2 separate regions of the Homo sapiens genome follow, and region 2 is linked to region 1. The links come from fine-mapping of genetic effects on gene expression. A gene starts in region 1. The other region holds a variant in brackets. All regions are shown on one strand. Distances are from middle to middle.

Region 1 (2,915 bases):
CTCGTGCCTTACCCTTCGGAGTAGCTAGGAGTACAGGCACGTGCCACCACGCCCTGCTAATTTTTGTATTTTTAATAGAGACAGGGTTTCACCATGTTGGCCAGGCTGGTCTCGAACTCCTGGCTTCAAGTGATACACCCGCCTCCGCCTCCCAAAGTGCTGGGATTACAGGCTTGAGCCACCGCGCCTAGCCAGACGTCAACTTTTCAGTACGTTTCAATATATTCTTTGCGCCTCATTCCTCAAAGACCTTTTTTCACTCTCATTTAAATGGTAATGACCATTTTAAAGGAGATTAAGTTTCTACTTGTTAAAGATTAATAACTTTTTTTTTGGAGACAGAGTCTTGGACTGTCGCCAGGGCTGGAGTGCAATGGCGCGATCTCGGCTCACTGCAACTTCCACCTCCCGGGTTCAAGCAATTCTCCTGCCTCAGCCTCCTGAGTAGCTGGGATTACAGGCGCACATCACCACACCCGGCTAATTTTTTGTATTTTTAGTAGAGACGGGGTTTCACTATGTTGGCCAGACTGGTCTCGAACTCCTGACCTCGTGATCTTCTGGCCTCGGCCTCCCAAAGTGCTGGGATTGCAGGCGTGAGCCACCAAGCCTGGCCAATAACTTTTAAATCACTAACATACAAATGTCTTTTGTTGTTTTAAAAAAAAATCAAAACAATACCTAGCTAGACAGGATAAAAAATCAGCAGCTTATATTCTATCGCCCTTTTGTCGGTACTGGCGGTATGTTAATCGTGAGGCTTAGAACCTTGTTTCACAGCCCTGATCGTGCCTTTTGAGAATCTTTTACGTTCTGGATATTCTGGTATGGAAGAGGAGAAAAACCGGCGCTGGGCAGTTTGCAATCCAGGAAAATAGGGAAGGATAAACCTGAAGCCTGTGCGTCCAGGTGCGCCTGGCTAGGGTTTCCGACGGCCGCGGTGTCTCGGTGGGGACCGGTCCCGGAGGCTTCGGCGAGGAGGACCCGGAGTCCCCCCCGCCCCGCGGCGGAACTAACCACGGAGGCCTCTGGTCCCTTTAAGGTGCCCGGCGAGCGGAGAAAGGGAGCAGAGGGGGCGGGAGGAGGGTTCGGGAGCGCACGCCACGTGACCCGGCGGCCAAGTTCGCTGCGAGTTTGACAGAAGTTTGAATCCGAGTCGGGGGCTTTCTGCTGCCGGCGGGGCACCGCGGCGGCCGCAGCCTCTGAGAGCACGAACAGCAGCGCCCCCGCGTCCCAGCCAGCCAGCCAGCCAGACTGGACTCCGGCCCACCGACGGCCGCTCGCGCTCCGGCCCCGCTCGCCTGCTCTGCCCCGGACCTGCAGCTCCCCGCTCCCCCGCCGTGTCCGCCGCCTCCCGGCCAGAGAGCCAAGCCACCACGCCGCGCCCAGCGCTCGCCGCGCCAGCATGTCCTCGACCGAGAGCGCCGGCCGCACGGCGGACAAGTCGCCGCGCCAGCAGGTAGTCCCTGCGCGCCCAGGACTCTCACCCGCCCCTCTCCACCTAGATGTCGGGCTGCACACTTATCCCACCCCTGGACCGCGTGTGAGTGGGGCAAGGGGACCAGCGCCTTCCCAGGGTTCCCCACCGCCCTGACCCCCCGGCCGGCTGTGTCTCCGCAGGTGGACCGCCTACTCGTGGGGCTGCGCTGGCGGCGGCTGGAGGAGCCGCTGGGCTTCATCAAAGTTCTCCAGTGGGTGAGTCGCTGCCCCGGCCCCGGGCTATTTCGGGAGCCTGGGCTGTGACGCTGACCTGAAGCAATGGAGCCAGGGTGGGGGCTGGGGAGGTGCTGCGGCCGGGCCACGGCGGAAGGGTGGGGGGCGGCGACAGGTGGGCGGGGGAGGGGCGGGCTGGGGCTGCTTCTCCGGACTTAGTGGCAGGAGGGTGAAGAGCGAGGCATGCGGAGTCCCGGATTCGGTCCTTCTATGTGCAAGGAGCCTTTGCCCAGGGCGCTCACATTTCACCCGGGCGAGAGGACCCGGGTGTAACCTTTCCAGAACTCTGATCCTGCACATACCACTCCTTGGTGACGGGAGGGGGGAGAAGGACGACGGGGACGAGGTCCGCTCTTCACCAAGAGGGAAGCCGCAGAGGGCAAAGGAGGGAAGGAAGCAGGCGATGGAAACCGTCCTGCCCCCAAACCCACCAGGGCCTGGATGATCCTGCAAGTACTGGGCTCAGGGGACAGGCTCTCGGCTCGCCGTTCCCTTTTGAGGTCACTGGAGTAATCCGAGTTCCTGTAAATGAGTGAGGGAGTGGATGAATGAATGAACGGAGCTTGTGGTTCTATGATTAAATAAAAGAAAAAAATAAGAATAAAAATCACGGCATGGCTAAAATGTGGCATGTAGAATAAAATGGAACACTGATCTGAGAAGCTGGGGCCCTGGGATCCAGACCTAGACTGGCCTTTTCCAGCTATGTCACCTTGGGCAATTCATTTCTCTGGACTTCAATTTCCAACACTAGTTAGATGTTGATCAGAACCTTCCTAGGGTCTCCTTATGCTCTAAATAGTTTGGTGTGCCAGAATATGGCCCTAGGTTAGACTTACTTTGTGACCTTGAAAAAGTCACTTGCTCAGGTCCTCAGTTTCCCCTGTTACAGTCTAGTGGAAATACTATCTTGCTTCACTAGGCCAGTGCCTAAGGCCTCCTGGGTATAAATTAGGAATGTGGACAGGTGCAGTCAATTTCTCAAATCATAAAGACTTGTAGGGGGCATTTAGTGCACTATTGCAGAAGAGATTTTAAATTAGACAATCCACATACCAAATGGTGTGTGAATAACTTAATTAATGTGCTCTCAGTACAGAATTCAGCTAGGGAATAAGTTACCATTAATACTGAGGAGGATTGAGTTCTACAGGGCTTTGGAGACAAGAATTAGCACTGTGACACCAGTTCTTAAATCATGG
Region 2 (2,743 bases), 44 kb after region 1:
GCTGCCTCCAGGTCCGCAGGCCTGGCGCGGATCGGTGCGGGGAGCCGGAGGCGCAGCGATCCCAGCGGAGGGAGCGGCGTGGGGGCAGCGAGCACCGCGCGCGCGCCCGTCGCCGCCGCCGGAGCCTCGGGGCGCGTGCGCGCGGCGGGGGCGGGGCGCACGTGCGTGTGTTTGTGTCGGAGCCGGCCGGGCGGACGCGCGCGGGGTCGTTCCCTCAACCAGCGAGCTCCGGACGCTGAGCTAAAGACGAAAATTGGCAGGAAGAGCGGCACTGGCCCCTTAGGCTCCGCTATAACTTCCTCCATCCCCCATTCCCCCATCTCCCAGCACCCTTCTCGCTACACAGACCGGCTCTCAGGAAAAGTCTAACTAAAGTGAATTCGCTGCACCTACTCGGGCAAGAGGCGTCACATGTCTTTTAATTTCGCAAATTGAAGAAATCTGGCTCAGCTCCCGCCTGCCAATGTTGGCGGGAAATTCATTAGTCACATTCTGAGGTTCCCCCTCCCTTCTCTCTGTGGCTGTGGGGTCTCAAAAATTGGGGGAGGGGTTCCCCCCACCCCACCCCCGTCTTGATGCTACTAGTTCATGACCCTTGAGGTACCACTGAAGGGCACAGCTCCTTAGCCTGCAAGCCAGCTGCGCAGGAGTGAGGGGAAAGGGGGTGTTTGGTGAGCCCAGGCCCCAGAACACCCCTTTACAGACACCTCATGCACCTCTCCCCACTCCACCTGCTACACACACACACACACACACACACACACACACACACACACACACGGACTGCATACAAGCCAGGGACAATTTCCATTCCTGGAAACTCCGAAACCCTTCCCAGCCCGGAGGAAGTCATTCAGCCCTTAGGTCTGGCCACTTGCCTTCTTCCTAAACCAGTGCCAGCTCCCCACTCCCCTTATGGAGCAATTGCAACATAGTTTCTCTGTTACCTAATCCTCAAGATGAAGGCCAGTGGTGGAGGTGGAGGGGTTTCTTCTTTAGGGTGGCCCCTGAAACAACAAGAAGCTGTTACTAGTGTATGTTGTTTGGGTTTGGGGGTGAGGAAAGAGAGAGATGCAGGAAGAGCCTAGACCTTATCATTCAAGATGTTAGCTGTTCTTGAGATGGTGGACCATAAGAAATTACCTTTTTATTTGTTCCAGTCTCTTATAACAGCAAGATCAAGACTGAAATTAATGTCTCAGTAGATTAGCTTGCTAAGAGTTTTAAAAAGAATTTATATCTGTCACATGTTTTACCATGAATTTTAGTGAATATATTATCTCTTCAAGGAGTATTAGCGTGTTAATCTTATGCATAGTGTGAAAAGGTCTTTCTGCAAGGTGCAGTGGCTCACACCTGTAATCCCAGCACTTTGGGAGGCTGCGGCAGGAGGATTGCTTGAACCCAGGAGTTCGAGAGCAGCCTGGGCAACATGGTGAGACTCTGTCTCTTAAAAAAAAAAAAGGCATGGTGGCAC[G/C]CACCTGTGGTGCCCACTACTTGAGAGGCTGAGGTCGGAGGATCACTTGAGCCCTGGAGGTCAAGGCTGCAGTGAGCCATGTTTGTGTCACTGCATTCCAGCCTGGGTGACAGAGCAAGATCCTGTCTCAAAAAAAAAAAAAAAAAAGAAAGAAAGAAAGAAAGAAAGAAAGAAAGAAAGAAAGAAAGAAAGAAAGAAAAAAGAGAAAGATGTTCTGTTCTGTTCATTTCAGGCATCATTGAAAAGATGAGGAGGGTAATCTTTTTGGAGGACAAGGTGTGAAGAATCTTGAAATCACATTGCATCAGTTATCTATTGCTGCATAATCACATTACCCCAAAACTTAGTGACTTCCTACAGCAATATACATTTATTGCCTTTCACAGTGTCTGTTGGTCAGATTCAAGAGCAGTCTGGTGGACAGTTCTGGCTTGGCAGTTTCTCATGCAGTTATGCGTTAGATGGAGCTACAGTCATTAGAAGGCTTCACTGGGGCCATAGAGGCTCACTTAAATTCATGTGGCTGGCTGTTGGCAGGAAACCTCTATTCTTATCCATAAAGGTCTCTCCACAAGACAGCTTGAGTTTCCTCACAACACGGTAGCTGACTTCCCTCAGAGCAAGAGATGCAAGAGACAGCAAGACAGAAGTCACAGTGATCTGGCTCTTTGAAGTGATGGATATCACCTCCACTTTGGTCACATATGCAATTCCTGATTCAATATGGAAGAACTACACAAGGGCACAAATACCAGGAAGAGAGGATCATTGGGACCATCTTGGAGGCTGGCTATCACACACATCATCTCTGAAGTTACATCTATTTTTTAATTTTGAGAATTTTCAAACATACACAAAAGTGAATAGTACAATGAACTCCCATATACCCATCACCCATTTCAATAATTATTAAAGAAATGTCATCATTTTATTTTGTACAAATATTCCTGAGAAACATATGCTCCTCTCACCCCACCCCTCATCTGCATGTTGCATATTTTCTTTTCACCCCAGTGTTGTTCCAGGCTCTCTCCTCTCCCTTTCCTCTTTATTTTTATTTTTTAGACAGAGTTTCGCTGTTGTCACCCAGGCTGCAGTGCCGTGGCATGATCTTGGCTCACTGCAACCTCCGCCTCCTGGGTTCAAGTGGTTCTCCTGCCTCAGCCTCCCAAGTAGCTGGGATTACGGATGCCTGCTACCATGCCCAGCTAATTTTTATATTTTTAGTAATGACAGGGTTTCACCATGTTGGCCAGGCTGGTCTCG

Which allele goes with the higher level. Alleles are on the strand shown, and positions count from the first base shown. SD is a standard deviation of normalised expression in the study named.
For the expression in spleen of the gene that starts at base 1,108 in region 1, allele G in region 2 goes with a higher level than allele C (small effect, 0.31 SD a copy in GTEx).

The links. PIP is the estimated chance that this variant, and not a neighbour inherited with it, causes the effect.
Region 2: its variant is the best candidate, but not a certain one, in a credible set for the expression of SYPL2 in spleen (GTEx, PIP 0.51).

What each region holds. Positions count from the first base shown.
Region 1 is chr1:109,465,439-109,468,353 of GRCh38, forward strand. SYPL2 (synaptophysin like 2) reads left to right here and starts at 1,108. Exons shown (of 6, transcript NM_001040709.2): 1 at 1,108-1,459; 2 at 1,621-1,695. The coding sequence starts at 1,406. RefSeq lists enhancers at 539-1,040, 1,041-1,540.
Region 2 is chr1:109,509,635-109,512,377 of GRCh38, forward strand. It overlaps AMIGO1 (adhesion molecule with Ig like domain 1), which reads right to left and starts at 93. Exons shown (of 2, transcript NM_020703.4): 1 at 1-93. LOC105378893 (a long non-coding RNA gene) reads right to left here. Exons shown (of 3, transcript XR_001738179.2): 3 at 968-1,007. RefSeq lists a silencer at 1-96. The variant G/C (reference allele first, on the strand shown) is at 1,478.